4 linked regions of the Homo sapiens genome follow. The protein of the gene in region 1 purifies or fractionates together with the protein of each later gene. This does not show direct contact. Each region holds a gene or a part of one and is shown in the gene's direction. Other genes may lie near its edges.

What was found. Proteins that work in one complex are often made in the same cells at the same time.
Region 2: the proteins of CEP135 (region 1) and PIP purify together in Homo sapiens (co-immunoprecipitation; one large-scale study listed by IntAct). This does not show direct contact.
Region 3: the proteins of CEP135 (region 1) and BCKDHA purify together in Homo sapiens (co-immunoprecipitation; one large-scale study listed by IntAct). This does not show direct contact.
Region 4: the proteins of CEP135 (region 1) and ZMYM4 purify together in Homo sapiens (co-immunoprecipitation; one large-scale study listed by IntAct). This does not show direct contact.

Annotation. Positions count from the first base shown.
Region 1 is NC_000004.12:56,031,160-56,035,748, forward strand, and holds the end of CEP135 (centrosomal protein of 135 kDa), read left to right. Parts: intron 1-200; 3' UTR 201-2,202; downstream 2,203-4,589. UniProt on the Homo sapiens protein: Centrosomal microtubule-binding protein involved in centriole biogenesis. Acts as a scaffolding protein during early centriole biogenesis.
Region 2 is NC_000007.14:143,135,015-143,138,892, forward strand, and holds part of PIP (prolactin-inducible protein precursor), read left to right. Parts: intron 1-179; coding exon 180-285; intron 286-3,878.
Region 3 is NC_000019.10:41,411,256-41,416,052, forward strand, and holds part of BCKDHA (2-oxoisovalerate dehydrogenase subunit alpha, mitochondrial isoform 1 precursor), read left to right. Parts: intron 1-2,793; coding exon 2,794-2,902; intron 2,903-4,797. UniProt on the Homo sapiens protein: Together with BCKDHB forms the heterotetrameric E1 subunit of the mitochondrial branched-chain alpha-ketoacid dehydrogenase (BCKD) complex.
Region 4 is NC_000001.11:35,275,147-35,279,943, forward strand, and holds part of ZMYM4 (zinc finger MYM-type protein 4), read left to right. Parts: intron 1-4,797. UniProt on the Homo sapiens protein: Plays a role in the regulation of cell morphology and cytoskeletal organization.

The DNA of each region.
Region 1 (4,589 bases):
ATAAAGTACAATGAATAAAACAGTACTTGAACTTTCAGAAGTAGAACAGTACTTCTTAAATATAACTGGATGTGGGGCACAGAGTTTTATTAGATTCTATAATTTCATTTATAACATTATTGAATTTCAGTTTTTTATGAATATGTTGAATAACTTTATCATTTTTCTCTTAACCCACCTTTCAATTTCCTCCCTTTCAGAATAATGGCTTTCAATGAGTTCCTATGTGGATTTTTAAAAGAACAGAACAGTAATGAAATATTTGAAGTACTTGTTGCTGAAAATCATGAACATGGACACAAATTCTACCTCTGTCAACTTTTATTTAAATCAGTGAATATGTTAAAAAGTTTGGTTTAAAAGAACTATATCTATATGTATATTTTCATATATATGACAGAACAAGAATATGTATTAATAGTGCCTAATGTATCTATATTTTTATTATTCATGAATTAAATTACTAAAAGTATGTTTATACTGTGAATTAATATAATGTATTCACATTATTCTTTAATAATCTGTTTATTAATAAGCCATGATATGTGTATGTAAATATTCTTACAGTACTTGTTTTTAGTTGTCATGCCTATGTTTAGACCATATCTTAATGTATTCACAAAGAATTATCAACTTTGATGCTATGCTGTCATGCTTAACTTTTTCTTCTTAAAATTATTCATAGATCTACTGTCTGTTGTCAAGGGGAATATATTCAGGTCTAGTCTTCTTATAATAGCAGAGGTCTTGGTAAAATAACTACCATATATAACGTGTTATTGCCATCTAGAAGAACTATGATGAGAAAGATACATTTATATATTATGTAAAATGTTAACTATCATCATATGGACTCTATGTAACACAAATTCAAAAGCAAACTAAAAGCTATATGCAGAGTTTTGTATAAAACAATAGAACAGAAATTTGGGACATTTTTCTAGGAAATAAAATTCCTCGGTGTATTAATCTAAGGTTTCAAAGTATAAAAGTATATGGGGTAGGCCGGGTGCAGTGGCTCACGCCTGTAATCCCAGCACTTTGGGAGGCCGAGGCGAGTGGATTTCCTAAGGTCAGGAGTTTGAGACCAGCCTGAGCAATGTGGTGAAACCCCATCTCTACTAAAAATACAAAAATTATCTGGGCTTGGTGGCGGGCACCTGTAATCCCAGCCACTTGGGAGGCTGAGGCAGGAGAATTGCTTGAACCCGGGAGGTGGAGGCTGCGGTGAGCCAAGATCATGCCATTGCACTCCAGCCTGGGTGACAGAGTAACACTCTGTCTCAGAAAAAAAAAAAAAGAAAAATATATGGGGTAAATACAGTAAAACGTTTTGTTAAATTCCAATATACATTCAGTGATACCACTCTTTTTCTTCTAAGCCTGTGTGTTATAATTTACCAGTTCCCCAAAATGCCATTTTTAACGCCGAACTGTGTAATATACATGGAAAACAGCTTTTTACAATTAATTTTCAAAGTTGTAATTTTAAAGAATTTGGGTGTATACCTATGTTAATGAAACAACAGAAGTACAAAAAAGAATATCAGATACAAAAATCAATCGTGAAGAAAATCTGTTCTTAATATATTTCATTATGATTGAAAAACATAAAAACTAACATAGGAAAGTGAATGATCAGTTACTTATGATATATTTTGTTTCCTCTTGTGGTTTAATAAAGTGAAGTGTGTGTGTGTGTGTGTGTGTGTATACCTGGGGGTGGGCAGTGCTCTTTTTCTAAAACTAATATGGCTTATATATCTGAATTATGCCCTTTTTAGTGTGTATTAGGATGTGGGCTGGTTTGCTTTTCTACCACCTTTGTAATTTTATGTATCCCATCTCCTTTGTGTGAATTCATATATTATAGCAAAATACAAGAGACATGGGACTGTTTGCAATACCATATGGAAATCTTTTAATAAATATATGTAAATAAAATAAAAAATATTTGTCTCCACCTTTTCCCCAAAAGCAACAGCAAGACATATTTTGTTAGATATTTTATTTTTAATGTTTTCTATAATTTAAAAATGTATAGCCTGCCAAATGTTGTTTTCATAACCATGATATTGTTTTGAAAAAATTTTATCTTAAAATACTGAATGTTCTGACCTTTTATAGATGTTTTTGATTTTGTTTTAAATAATTTTAAATTATGGAGCTTGACCTAGATTTGCCAATAAACTTTCTAGCCTATTTATTTTCTCTTTCTTACAAATAAGGTTTTTATAATTTTATATTAGGGATACTCTTAATTCTAAAATTAAGTAAAGTTTATTCAAATCAAACTTTATCATGGTGGGATATGGACAAATCCCTGAACATAGGTGCCAGGCACCTTTCTTAACTGACTTTTATTTCCATTTAGTTCAAAATAATAAGAAATGAAGCCAAAGTTTATTTTTGTTATCTGTCCACAAAATGGTTAAACGTGTGTGCGTATGAATATACGCTCTTCTCACTTGCAAATGCTCTTTGTTGAGCACATTGACTCCCATTAGACTATGACACCTGTTGCCGTACCTTATTGTAATTCATCATACAAGTGATCTCATACTTCTCTCCCTAATTCTTAGAAGACTTTAGCAAGTGGCTTACTATCTTTCTACCATTAGTTCTATTATCAGCCTTTTTATATCAGTATCTTCTTGGGCCAATGGTTATTGACTATACCTGCACATTGTAGTTATCTGGAGAATTTTAATGAATAACTGATGTCTGAACCCCTACACCAGACCAAATATATCAGAAATTCTGCAATTGAAGTATGGTCTTTTAAAAATTTTTAAACTTAAAATTGACATATAATGTACATATTTATGAGGTACGTAGTGATGTTTCAATACATATATTGTGATCTAATCATTGTAATTAGCATATCCATCATCTCATTTATCATTTTGTGTTGAGAACATTCAGTATCCTCTTCCTAGACATTTGAAGCCATATATTAACTATAGTCACCCTGCAGTGGTAGAGAATACTAGGAACTTCTTCTTCCTATCTAGCTATAATTTTGTATCCTTTAGCAAATGTCTCCCTATTGCTCCCTTTCCCCTATCCTTCCCAGCCTCTAGTATCCTCTATTCTACTTTTTACTTCTGTGAGATCTTTTTTTTAGCTTATACATACGAGTGAGAACATGCAGTGTTTAACTTTCTGTTTCTCACTTATTTCACTTAATTAACAATGTCCTCCAGTTCCTTCCATGTGACTGAGAATGACATGATGGTGGTTTTGTTTGTTTGTGTGTTTTTAAGGTCCCCTACAAGACTGTTATGTTCAGCAGGGTTAATAATGTTAATTTAAGAGGCTGATCCATCAAATTGATTTCATGACCCACTAATGGGACTTAACATATAGTTTTGAAGAACACTGCTTTAGATCTTGTCGTCACCTCCACAGTCCCAATTTCTAGCATCCTACTCACCCCTCTTTCTAGGTTACTGTTTTGATTATGAATATACCAACAATTCTTTGACTCCACTAGGTTCTTCAGACAATTGATTCTATCATCTATCACTTATCTATAATTTCATCACCCTCACTTTCTTTTTTTTAATGTTTGTTTATTTATTTAGAGATGGGGTGTCACTCTGTTGCCAGGCTGGAGTGCAGTGGCATGATCTCGGCTCACCGCAGCCTCCATCTCCTGGGTTCAAGCGATTCTTCTGCCCCAGCCTCCCGAGTAGCTGGGACTACAGATGCGCACCACCACACCCAGCTAATTTTTGTATTTTTAGTAGAGATGGGGTTTCACCATGTTGGCCAGGATGGTATCAATCTCTTGACCTCATGATCCACCCGCCTCGGCCTCCCAAAGTGCTGGGATTACAGGTGTGAGCCACCACTCCCAGCCCATCACCCTCACTTTCTTTAGCATAGACATCATTGTCCTTGCACATCCCCTAAATTCTTATCCTTCTGATCTGAAAAACATCCAGCTGCTTGCATCTATACCTACTGACTCTTTTTACTTTAAATTTATGGCCCTGAAAATCAAAGGCCCGCAGCACTGTGTGACAATCCTTATACACTGTTCTGATCAATTCACACTTAACCTCTCCCCAACAAGTATTCTCCTCTTTATTCAGACCTTCTATGCTTCTCTCACTTTGTTTCTTTTTTTTCTATGAGACAAGGGAAACAATAGAAAAGAAATTTCTCACTCTCCAAATCTATCAACGTGTTCTCTATCCAACTAATTTTCTTTCTTCCTATTAGGACATGAACCATCTCTACCCTTTAGCCATTCTGTCTAGTTGTGATCAGTAGCCATCTCTTCTACTGGAAAGACTTCTGTCAGGTATGGTGGCTCAGCCTATAATTCCAGCACTTTGGGAGGCTGAGGCAGGAGGATCACTTGAGCCCAGGAGTTCGAGACCAGCCTCGGCAACATAGGGAGACCTCATCCAGAAAATTTAAAAAAAATTAGCTGGGCATGATGGCGTTCACCTGTAGCCCCAGCTATTTGGGAGGCTGACGTGGGAGCACCACTTGAGCCCAGGAAGTTGAGGCTGCAGTGAGCTGTGATTGTGCTACTGCACTCTAGCCTGAACACAGAGTGAGATACCCTGTCTCAA
Region 2 (3,878 bases), on another chromosome or scaffold:
AGTTACCAATCCAATCAACACATGAAAATTCCAGGGGATTCCAATGCTGAACAATTGATCCAAGCCCCATAATTTCCCTCCCTTGCCCATCCTGTGCCCCTTGCCCTGTTCATGGCTCCCCCCTCACTCAAAGATTGGTCTCTGATCCTGGTGTTCTGATTCTCTCTTCCCACAATCAGTCGGAAGATCATAATAAAGAATTTTGACATTCCCAAGTCAGTACGTCCAAATGACGAAGTCACTGCAGTGCTTGCAGTTCAAACAGAATTGAAAGAATGCATGGTGGTAAGTAGAGGACTGGGGGCGTGACTTCAAAAGATAATTCAACTCCTTGATTATAAACATAATTTAATCTCTCACTTTAATAATGTACAGTGTACTTAATGAAACATTCTCACTTATGTTATGCTACTTGAGACTCAGAACAACTGTGGGAGCTTGGGACAGATGACTTCTCATTTTCCAGATGAAGAAGTTCGAATCCAGAGAAGTCTAGGATAAATAAGAAGGAAAGGAAGAAGGAATAGGAAGTGAGAAAGAGGGAAAAAGAAAAAAGTGTAAGAGCTAGTAGAGAAGCAGTTAGAGTCCTTCCAAGGTCCTGAGCATGTTTAGTTTAGGATGGAGGGAGGGGAGTTCTCAGAAGAGAAAGCAGCAACTCCACACCATAGGTTGAGGTGGGTGGGCAGAAGAGGACATGCAGGATATGACTCCTCCTCTCCAGTAAGCACTGAGCGACTCTACTGTCCTCTTGCCTTCTTCTGCTCCTTTGCTCTGGGTCACCAGAAGTGGACTCTTGTTCCAGCCTCCCCACCCTGACAAGGAGCTCGTAATCATCTCCTCCTTTTCCCCACGTTCAGAAGTCCAATCTCTGAACAAGGTCAGAGGTTTTCAAATGGTAATGTGTCTAAAACTCACTCGGGGATCTTGTTAAAATTCAGAGTTTCATTCAGCAGGTCTGGGGAGAGATTAGAACTTCTGGATTTTAACAGACGCCCAAGGTACACCAAGGCTGTGCCCAAAGGATCACATTTTTGAGCAGCTTGGGATTAGAGCATTATCCCTCCTGTCTAGCTGCCAAGGGCCAGAAGTCAAATAGACTTATGCAGTTATTAATCCACAGTGACTCTTCCCTGGGACACTGGTTGTGTGTCCTTTTCCTAGTCATTGATCTCAGATGTCACAAGCATGCAAACTGCCCCCACTACCTTTGTTCTAGGGCCAAGACCCATGCATCTCCCATCTCCCCTACTCCCTCCCCAGACCCTTCATGAAGGACACCTTCTATCAGGCAGCACAAGTATTTCCTTACAACATAAGTTTCCTAATTCAAATGAGACTTAAGGACAATGATTACATGTAAAACAACATTGAGAACATGAAGATTGCTATTCAGTCAACTGCATTCTAGAAATATCCCCACACCTGTAAAGAAAAATTCCTGGTCAATGAGCAAAGAATATCACAGCTGCTTTGTCAAATTTTTCTATTTTCAGTCCAAGAATCTGAGACATGTACACTAATTTGGGGTAGGAGCAAGGCTGAATCATAATTTTTCAACTCTGTATTTTGTTTATCACAAACACAGGTGAGAATGAGAATAAGAACATGTACATAATGTGTACATAAAATTTTTGTGAAAATGGTGGTTTCTGGTGGTAATAGTTAATGGTAGTGGTAGGTATAATAAGATATGTTTGAATCAATAAAATTACATGTGACATAATTTTGTGCTTTTGTGATTAATAAAAGTATGCTTTTAAGAATCATGCTAGTACTCTAAAATAAAGCAATCTTTTCAAAACCCACCTAAGCACAACTAAAAGAATAAGAAATCTTTAGACTAACTGACTTTGCAAACTAGAAATAATTTACAGGAAAGGAAATTTTGTTAATTCTAGTCAACAAATTTTTATTTGTGGCTTCATTTTTCAAAGTATAACTATTTTTAAATTTTTATTAAAATATATTTATATAACTATAAAATTCTTACCATCTAATCCTCATTTTTTATCATTTATAATGTTTTCTGTAACTGAATTTTTGAAAAAGTGAGGTTTAGACTCATATTTATTTATTTTAGAATTAGAATAGAATATACCTACAATCGTATATTTGAATATAAAGATTGCATAATCCTTTAAAGCTGAAGGAAACTTGTGGCAAAAACAATGCTTAAACATTTTTGTGCTACAGGCCATTTCGTTGGTTTCATGAAGTTTATGAAACATTTATCAGAAAATTGCTTCTAAATGTATAAAGTGCATTGGATTACAGAGAGAAACTACCACATTGAGTAACAGTGACTAACTTGTAAAAAATAAATTTGTGATGCAGTAAGGTATGTGTTTCTTTATGCACACATTAGCTGGGAAAGCAATACATTTAAAATATAGAAGAGTTGAATTTTATTCTATGAACACATTATCTGTGTGATGGATGTTGTTACTTAGCTTGAAGAAGTACATTAAACTGCACTGGTCTTTGGCAACACGTCCCACGTGCCATGCTAGGCATGCAACGGATTCTGATCTTTTATTGTACAAGTGGTGTAAATTCTGATTCATGACGATATGTTGTTGCTAATGTAACAGAAAGGTAAACAAGGCCGGGCACAGTGGCTTGTGCCTGTAATCCCAGCACTTTGGGAGGCCAAAGTGGGCAGATCACCTGAGGTCAGGAGTTCGAGACCAGCTTGGCCAACATGGTGAAACCCTGTCTCTACTAAAAATACAAAAATTAGCCAGGGCTGGTAGCACGCACCTGTAATCCCAGCTACTCAGGAGGCTGAGGCAGAAGAATCACTTGAACCTGGGAGGCGGAGGTTGCAGTGAGCCACGTTCGCACCATTGCACTCCAGCCTGGGCAACAGAGTGAGACTCTGTCTCTTAGAAAAAAAAAAAAAAGGGAAACAAGGCACAGGTAGTCTTCTCCAAAGAAACGCCAGGATTCTCCAAGGCATTCTGAGTAAAACTCCAAGGGTGAGAACACCTGAATTTACTGTTTAGGTCTGAACGGCTACTTGATGCTGAGTTGCCAGGTAGCTGAGCAAGCTGCAGGAGGTGGGCAGAATGGCACTGGGCCTCAGTCGTGACCATGAGCCAGTCTGATAACTGCCATACATTCAAGGTAGTACATTCAGGCTGTATTTCGGACCTCTGGATCCGTGCAATGATATGTACATATCTACTTTTCTCCTTGTGATAAAATCACACATACTGCTAATGGCACTGTGGTTCCTTGATGACATTCATAACAGAAGGAATGCTGAATTTCAATTAGAGGTTAGTAATAAAGATGCATATTTTTCCCCTGCCTGAGTCCACAGACTCACTGAATGCTATCCACAGATCCCTCTGGGTCTATGGACCCCAGGATAAAACTGCTGTGTTAAACGTTAACTGGACAAAATCCTCTGACTCCACTGAAATTTATATATACAATAATCTGGGATCTTGAATTGCAAAGCACTCAAGTTAAAAAGAAATTTACATTCAAGATGTTATTTGCTTATCTAACAGCCAGGTTTGGTAGTTAATTGTTTCCACCTCATACCTGAGGAAAGTGAGAGTGAGAGGCCTCTCATCACCAAAGGTCACCAAGTCAGAGAGGAGCACAGATGGGGCTTGGTCACAGCTCTGACAACAAGGCCTGACATTGGCTCCTACACGCAAGTGGCCAGGCTGCTGTCTCACCAGGTCTCAGAGTAAACGTGATTGCAGGTCGATTCCTGAAACCTCTGGCTGGTGACTAAGGCAAGCCTGCTCCTCAGCTGGACAGCTGCCCTGGATGAGCTCTCCTTGCCCTGTGGATTCACTTGCATCCCTATCTCCTCCTGAGCTTCTCCACACTGCTAAGGCAGGAGTTTGAGGGCATTGGAA
Region 3 (4,797 bases), on another chromosome or scaffold:
AGAGGGCAGGGAGAAGGCCTGACAGCCCTTCCTCTTGGAAATGCACAGTCCTGAGAAACAGGGTGGGTCCCCAGTGCTTCCTGGAGTGCTCCAGGGGACCGCCCTAGGCCCATGTGAAATGGGCTGTGATCCCCTGATAAATCCTAGTATCAGGGACAAGGATCCAGTCAAGCCAGTGTCAACAAAGAGGGAAGTTATTGACTCCAATGACCATACATCCAGAGGGTCCTGTTTTGGGGCACAGCTAGATCCAGGGGGTCTTCCAGGCAGGAAGTAGAGGGAAGGCGGAAGGCCAGACATGGCACATCCCAGCTATCCCACACCCCCACCTTTATAGAGCTTTCTGGGTAGTCCCACCTAGTGACATCTGCATACATTTCCTGGGCCACTCCTAGCTGCAGGGGAGACTGAGAAATGTATTAATAATACTTTAGTCCCGGCAGTTGCTGCCTGCGGGAGATTGAGACCTCTGTTAACAGAGGAGGGGAATAGTATACTGGGAAGGCAACCAGGAGCCTCTGCCAGTAGCCCCGAGTCCTGATCCTCAGGGGGCTGGTTGCAGGCTCTTACCCACGCTAACCTGGACAGTCCTGCCAGGCCCTCAGTACTCAGCACCGCCCACTCACTTGGCACTGGAATGTGCATTAACTTTTAATTGGCTCCCCACTTAGAAGAAAGCACACATTCATCAGTTTCCCCCACAGCAACGGGAAAGCCAGGCCTGGGAACACATGGAGGAGGGCACCGCCGAGCCGCGAGGAGCTCTGGCCCCGGGGTGTCCCTCAGGGTGCTGGCCAGGCTGCCTTTGTTCCGCTTTACACATGGCCCTGTGTGATCTCATGTCCATCCGTATGCCAGGGCTGCCCAGAGCCCCAGCCAGACTGCTTGTCAGAGCCCTGCTTGGCTTCTCGCCCTGGATGTCCCACAGCAAACTAATCCTGTCTGAACTTGACCTCGACATCTTCCTCCCAGGCGTGCTCCTTTGCCTCACCTAGTCCGTTTCTCAGTGAAGAGCACCACCATCCACCTGCTTGCCCACACCAGAAACCTCATCTCATCCCTGTCTCCTCCCTCCCCCTTGCTATCCCTTTCTCCCCTCTCATTCCCTCTGTCTGTAGATATTTCTTTTTTTTTTTTTTTTTTACTTTTGAGATGGAGTTTTGCTCTTGTTGCCCAGGCTGGAGTGCAATGGCACGATCTTGGCTCACCGCCTCCCTGGTTCAAGCGATTCTCCTGCCTCAGCCTCCCGAGTAGCTGGGATTACAGGCATGCGCCACCACACCTGGCTAATTTTGTATTTTTAGTAGAGATGGGGTTTCTCCATGTTGGTCAGTCTGGTCTCGAACTCCCTACCTCAGGTGATCTGCCTGCCTTGGCCTCCCAAAATGGTAGGATTATAGGTGTGAGCCACTGCACCCAGCTGTAGCTACTTCTTTTCTTTTATGTTATTTTTATTTATTTATTTAGAGACGGAGTCCACCTCTGTCGCCCAGGCTGGAGTGCAGTGGCGCAATCTCGGCTCACTGCAACCTCCGCCTCCCAGGTTCAAGTGATTCTCCTGCCTTAGCCCCCCAAGTAGCTGGGATTACAGGCGCCCACCACCACACTCGGCTAATTTTTGTATTTTTAGTAGAGATGGGGTTTCACCACATTGGCCAGGCTAGTCTGGAACTCCTGACCTCAAGTGATCCGCCTGCCTTGGCCTCCCAAAGTACCGGGATTACAGGTGTGAGCCACCGTGCCTAGCCTGTCTGTAGATACATCTTTAGGAAGTGCTCAGCTGCTCAGCAGCACACTCTGAGACCCAGCCCCATCCTTTCTCTGCTTCACTGTTGTTGGTGAGTTGACCTTCGTGCTCTGCTTGTGGCCTCGTGTTCACAGCATGGCTGCTGCATGTCCAAGCTTCATGGCTGTCTGCAAGGCAGGAAGAAGTAGGGAGTGGGTAGGGCTGGCACCAGCAGCAGTGGTCTCTTCTATCCAGAAAGCAAAAGCAGACTTCCACCAAAATATCTGGCTAAAACTGTGTCCCATGGCCACCTCTGGCTGCAAGGGAGGCCAGGGACCTGAGTGCGTGTCTTTTTGAGGCTCAGGTTAGGGGATTTGGGAGAAGGGAACTGGGCACTGGTGTGGCCAGCTGACAGGGTCTGCTGCCCCCTAGCACAGCCGACTCAGCTTCCTCAGACACATCCACCTGCTCCTCTCCCGCCTCCCTCTGCTACCAAGCTGGGCCTCTGCCCCCTCTCTCCTGGCTTGCTGCAATCAGCCTTGATGACTCCATCCATTTACCTCACTGCAGCCTGAGAGCAATTCTAAAACACAGGTCTGACCACATTGCTCCCTTGAGAAGACTGTCGGCAGGTTACCACTATTCTCAGAGTAAAATCAATGTATCGTTCCCTTTGTTATCTGGGTGCCATCTCCTCTCCCTCCTCATCTTTCCCCACCCCTACCACTGTATGTCCCAGCCCTTCTGGCCTCATGGTCTATCATTCCCTCTGCCTGGAACCCTCCACCCACCCCATCTTTGCGCACTGGTCCTCACCGATGCCCTTCCGTGGTGGAACAGGTGCTTCCTTTGGGCTTCTATCACAGCAACTCGATCCCTCTGGCAGTTCTAAGCAGTCTGGCAGCGTCTTCTTAAAGGCAGGAACCCCAGCATGGCCTGGCCCAGGACTGGCCTTCAGGAGGACTGTGAATTCATGGAGGTGTTGGAAGCTGGGCAGGATTTGGATGGCTCTCTGTCATTGCCCAGCATAACCAATTGTGGGACCCCGGTCCCCTCTACACCCCCAGGGCCGGATCTCCTTCTACATGACCAACTATGGTGAGGAGGGCACGCACGTGGGGAGTGCCGCCGCCCTGGACAACACGGACCTGGTGTTTGGCCAGTACCGGGAGGCAGGTACGTCTGTCCGTGGTTTGGCCCTGTGGTCCCCATTGAAGTGTACACTTTAGTTTTTCTGAGTGTTCTTCCAGGAGCAGCATAGTGCCAGGAAGGTCTAAGGAGCTGGAAGAAGAGCTTTCCAAGCAAGAAAGAGACAAGCCAGGGTTAGGACTCTGGAGGGGGCAGTCTTCCCACTCTGAAGGCCAGAAAGTGTAGTGGCTCAGGGTCTGTGCTCTTAACCCTTTGTTACCAGTTGTCAGGTTTTGGGCAAGTCACTTCCCTTCTCTGAGCCTCAGTTTTCTAATCTCCAGAAGAGGGATTATGACGGTACCTGCATCCAAGGGTCGCTGGGAGGATGCAGTGAAGTCAACGTTCGCTGTGGGTGTGGCCTGTGCAGGAGACCCTGTCTGCCTGGTGCAGTGATCCCCTGGCCCCTCCTCAGGTGCTGTATCCTTCGGGGAGCAGGAGCAGGTGGAAGAACCTTGACAGACCTGAGTGCGGTGCAAGATTAGAGGGGCCCGGCAAGCCCAGATGAGTGAAAGGAAGGAAGGGTCAAAGACCAGGAATGAAGAAAATCATTGAGCAGGAATGAGTGCCTGGGAGCGAAGGAGTGAGCCCAGGGAGCAGTGAGTGGGGTCTTCCAGGGAGCTTGTTGGTGTGGGGCCCTGCATGGGGACTACCCTCAGAGTGTCAGCGAGCACTGATAGGGCCAGGAAGGCATATCTTAACCCTTTGTCTTAGATGCTTGGGGCAAGTTGCTTAACTGCCCTGTGCCTCTGTTTCCTCATTCGTAAGGGGGATGGTAGCCCTTCCCAAGACAGCTGTTGAGGGCAGTCTTGGGGCAGTTGGCAAAGTGCCCTCAGCACAGAGTAAGCGCTCAGGGCCAGGGGTTGGTGTCATGATCGGGGACTCGCCCTGGGACAGCCCTTCAGCAGGGCCAGACCACGTGGCTGTCCAGAGCCCCCATGGACCAGCATGGCTTGCAGCCTGCTCCTGGACTGTCTACTGCTCACAGCTGGACCAGGCCCTTGGCCCCACATGCTCTAGGAGGGCAAACGCCCTGTGGTGTTTGTCTAAGGTCTAGTGTCATCCGTGCGGAAAAAGATTTCCAGACACCAGGCAGCAAGCTGGGCCCCCGCCAGCTGTGCTGAGCACTGCACCTGTTTTTGCTGAAGGGTTCTCTTGTGAGGGCACCAGGCAGGACCGAGCAAGCCTCATGGGAATCATGGGAGCCGCTGAGCTCTCCACATGGGAGAGCTGGCCGCCTCTGCAAGAATGACTGTCCAGCACTGAGGGTCAGCAGAAGTGTCTGGGCAGCTGCAAATGGGACTCATGCAGAGGCAGCATGGTGCAGGGTAAGGAGTTGAGTCACATCCACTCTAGACTTCACTTGGCAGGCCACTCACCTTGGTGACGCTGTCTGTCGTCTGTGAAGTGAGAAGAGTGGTGTTCATCATGATAGGTAGTGCCTCCCTGGGCTCTTGACACCAGAGTGCTGTTCTTTTTTTCTTCTCCTTTTTTTTTTTTGAGATGGAATCTCGCTCTGTTGCCCAGGCTGGAGTGCAGTGGCGCGATCTCGGCTCACTGCAAGCTCCACCTCCTGGGTTCACGCCATTCTCCTGCTTCAGCCTCCCGAGTAGCTGGGACTACAGGCGCCCACCACCATGCCTGGCTAATTTTTTGTATTTTTAGTAGAGGCGGGTTTCACCATGTTAGCCAGGATGGTCTTGATCTCCTGACCTTGCGATCCGCCCTCCTCCACCTCCTAAAGTGCTGGGATTACAGGCGTGAGCCACCATGCCTGGCCTTTTTTTTTTTTTTTGAGGTGGAGTCTCACTCTGTCGCCCAGGCTGGAGTACGGTGGCGCAGTCTTGGCTCATTGCAACTTCTGCCTTCCAGGTTCAGGTGATTCT
Region 4 (4,797 bases), on another chromosome or scaffold:
TTATTTTTTAGAAAATATACACTAAATATTTTGAAGCTGTGATTTACTTTAAAGATTATGTTTGTACTTTTTTTGACAATGGAAAGATTTTCTTTTTTCTTTTCTTTTTTTTTGAGACAGAGTCTTGCTCTGTCGCCTAGGCTGGAGTACAGTGGTGCCATCTCAGCTCACTACAACCTCCACCTCCTGGGTTCAAGCAATTCTCCTGCCTCAGTCCCCCGAGTAGCTAGGATTACAGGCGTGCACCACAATGCCCAGCTAATTTTTAGACAGGGTTTCACCATGTTGGCCAGGCTGGTCTTGAACTCCTGACCTCATGATCTGCCCGCCTCAGCCTCCCAAAGTGCTGGGATTACAGGCGTGAGCCACTGTGCCTTGCCAGAAAGGTTTTCTTACTAAAGAATATGTAAGTAGATAAATATAAAATTTCAGTTTCTATGGATACTTAAGAGGTATTTTTGAATTCTGTATTAGGAGAACAGCCACTATTTAAAGAAAAGTGATATTTCCCTTAAAAATTCTGATTATTTTACTATGAGCTAACTGTATGTACTTACTTTAGCAAAGGAGAAAGGCAAGTATTGTATAAATGTACTGTATTCAACCCAACAAAATTGCTAATACTTGACCATTTGACTTAAAAAAAAATGACACTTTTATGTGGCTTAGCCATTAGCAGGAGCATGGGTTTTTCAAAGTCAGTTTATGGTATAATCTCTGGAATTTAGCAATTTTGGGGTAGTAATAGTTCTTATCCAACCTTCTCATACCTATACCCACTTTCTTGTACTTAGGAAATATTTATATTGTTATTTTAATTTCATTCATATCATCTTTCTGGCCTCCTAGAAGCTTTAATTAGCTGCCTTTGACCAAAGATAGTCCTTTTTTTTGTTTTGTTTTGGTCTATCCAGCGTATAGAACCCAGCACTGTCAGTTCTTTGAGAACCCAGCACATATCAAGAATCATATGTGTTTTTCTTTCTTTACACTTCCCAATATGTCTTACAAATGTATTTTAATACTGACATGCATATTATACATTTATAAGCCAAAAATTAATCTACTATTCCTGTCTCATCTAACTACTCATTTCTGTCCCTCCCTCCCTCCCTCCTTCCCTCCCTCCCTCCCTTCTTTCTTCCCTCCTTTCCTTTCCTTCCTCCTTCCTTCCTTTTTTTCCATAGTTGAAATAATTTCAAAGAAATAACACACATCACATCATTTAATCTATAAATACTTCCGTGTGTATTTCTAACAGATAAGAATTTTTAACAAGCACAACCACAATACTGTTACGACCTAACAAAAGAGTTCCTTAATCCAGTCTGTGTTCAGACTTCTCTTATTCTTTAAGTGTCTTTTTACACTGATTTGTTTAAATCATCCAACTAAGAGTTACACATTTCATTTAGTTTATATGTTTCTTAAGTTTTTCTTAACCTTAATCACCTCCCCCCACCTTTTTTTTTCTTTTTGAAATGGAGTTTTGCCCTTGTTGCCCAGGCTGGAGTGCAGTGGCGTGATCTTGGCTCACTGCATCGTCCGTCTCCTGGGTTCAAGCGATTTTCCTGCTTCAGCCTCCCGAGTAGCTGGGATTATAGGCATGCACCACCAGCCTTGGCTTATTTTGTGTTTTTAGTAGCGACAGGGTTTTGCCATGTTGGCCAAGCTGGTCTCAAGCTCCTGATTTCAAGTGATCCACCCGCCTCCGCCTCCCAAAGTGCTGGGATTATAGGCATGAGCCACTGCACCCAGCCAATAATCCCCTTTCTTAACTCATACCCCCTGTGCTCCTTTCCCATGCTATTTATTTGTTGAAAAAAATAGGTTATTGTTCCAGGATAATTTTCCACATTTTGGATTTGGCTGATTGAATCCTTGTTATGGTATTTAACATGTTCCTTTACCCCTCATATTTCCCACAAATTAGTAGTTAAATACAGAGCAGTGGTTCTGAACTTTGGCTAAAACTTTAGAATTATCTGGAGAGCTTTTAGTTATCCTGATCCCTAGGCCACATCTCCGATAAATTAATCAGAGCCCATGAGGTAAAATGTCATCATCAATATTTTAAAAAATTTACCAAGTGATTTCAGTCTGTAGCCAAGATTGAGAGCCCTAGTTGGTAGAGCTTGATGAGTTTAGGTTCAGTTTCTTTGGCAAGAAATATTTATAAAGAGTGGTTATATAATTTATTTGCAATCAGACAATTTTGAGAATGAAAGGGGGTGCTATAATGATTACACAGAAGGAATAGTTTAAACTGGAATTGTTCTAGACAAATTAGGATTTATAGTCATTCCATTAGATGGGGCTGTGAATTCTTGTTGGATCGTTCTAGGAGGTAACTTAAGTGGTGGTTCTACTTTTAGTGATACTAAATGGATCATTTGGTTTAGGTTCTGTCAGTGGGATCCAAATGTAATTTATTTTTAACTTTTCACTTAATGATAATTCTTGCCTATATCCATTATTTCATTAGAAGAGTGATTTTTTTTGGTCATTTCTTTTGTATTTATTAACTGGAATTCTTTCATAAAGAATTCCCTCATCAATTATTTGGTTACCTTGTAATACGGTTTGTAAAGAAAAAGCAGGATAAATGCTTATTTTTTTCCCCTTTATCAGTAATTTTCAGAAAAATGAATTGATGCCCGCCCTCACAACTCCCAAAGGTGAGGTTTGGGAGGGAGTATCATTAGGAACTCATGAGTTTTACCATATGTGATACATTCTAATTTATCATAGTCATTATTTTTGGTGTTCAATTTGTTGTATCTTTGATGATTGGCGGTCTCTTAAATTAGTTTCCTAAGGCTGCCAAAAAACTGCTACATACTTGGTAGCTTAAAACATCAGAAATTATCTCACAGTTTTGGAGGCTAGAAGTCCAAAATCAAGGCTCTAGGGAAGAATCTTTGCTTGTCTCTTCTATCTTCTTGTGGCTTGGTTGGTATTCCTTGACTTGTGGCGGCAAAACTCCTGTCTTTGCCTTCATCTTCCCTTGGTCTTCTTTCTGCATCTTCTTTTCTGTCTCTTAGGGTCTACCTTATTCCTGGATGTTCTCAGCTCAAGATCCTTACCATAATTACCTCTCCAAAGATCTAGTCTGCTCACATACTGTGGTTCTGGGTGGACATAACTTTTGGGAGCCACAGTTTAATACACTACAGTTCTTTTTTTGACCCCTAAAACTTCATTTACATCCCATATGCAAAATAAATTCACCTCATCCCAACATCCTCAAAAGTCTCGACCTATTACAGCATGAACTCTGTTTTTTTTTTTTTTTTTTAGATGGAATTTCACTCTCTCGCCCAGGCTGGAGTGTAGTGGCAGAATCTTGGCTCACTGCAACCTCTGCCTCCTGGGTTCAAGCCATTTTCCTGCCTCAGTCTCCCAAGTAGCTGGGACTACAGGAGCGTGCCGCCATGCCTGGCTAATTTTTTGTATTTTTAGTGGAGACGGGGTTTCACTATGTTAGGATGGGCTCCATCTCCTGACCTCGTGATCTGCCCGCCTCGGCCTCCCAAAGTGCTGGGATTACAGGCATGAGCCACCATGCCCAGCTACAGCATGAACTCTTAAGTCCAAAATCTCCAAATATTATAACCTCAAAAAGTTTGAAATCTCATTGTCTTAAATCATCTAAATTAGGTAAGAGTATGGACTCGGCATGATTCATTTGGGATAAAATTCTCCATCTGTGGACCTGTGAAACTGGAAAACAACTTATCTGCTTCCAAAATACAATGATGAGAGGATGAGACAGCTGTTAAGATAGACATTCCCATTCAAAAGGAAGAAAATGGAAAGAATAAAGGATCTCCGGTTTCAAGCAAGTTCAAAACTCAGCAGGACAAATTTCTCTAGGTTTCAGGGCCTGAGAATAATCCTCTGTGGCTTGATCCTCTGCCCTCTGGGCCCATGGAGGCTCTGTCTGCAGCTGGTGTGGGCCTGTTTCTCCCCTACCCCCAACCCCCACTATGCTGCTCGCCTTCAGTCATTTTTACTTTTCCCTGAAGGGTTGCACATGTTTGTAGTTGAGTAACTGTATTAGCCCATTTCTTGCCTATAAAATCCCAGAAGTAAGACACTTTAAAAAATTTTGTCCCATCTCTGTTCCTTTCAGTACAGGCTGACAGCATTTTTGTTGGTATGATATTCTTTAAAACCTTGTCAGTCTCCTTACATATCAAGGGGGTCCATATCATTAGACGAGAGGATTCTTCACAGTTCCTTACTGATAACCCCATCTCCATTCCTCGTTTCTGTTGAGATGATTGATGGGATCCATGAGTCACACTGCTAGTATCTTCAGCATATGGTTGTCCAGCCACGTGGCCTGCTCTCTAGAACACACTTTTCTAACAGTGAATTTCCTAATTTCCGCATCCTTTGTATTCTGAATAATCTGAGAACCTCCCAGTTAATCGTTGTTTCCTTTTGCTTAAAGTTCCTTCTTCAATTTATCTCTTTCTTCTTGTATTTTACTATAAATATCAAGGAGGAACCAAGCTGTACCTTCAGCACTTTGCTTGGAAATCTCCTAGGCTAAATATTCAAGTTCATGGCTTCCAGATTCTCCTTTCTATCCCACAGTAGAACATAGTTCAGCCACTTTATAACATAGCTCACCTTTCTTCCAGTTCCCAGTCACATATTCTTTATTTACTTCTGAGACAGCAACAGAAGCATCCTTAACCAAAATATTGATATGAACCAAAATGTTCACAATTCTGTGTATGTATTCTCTAAGACTACAGAAGCTTTCTCTTAGTTGCTCATCACATC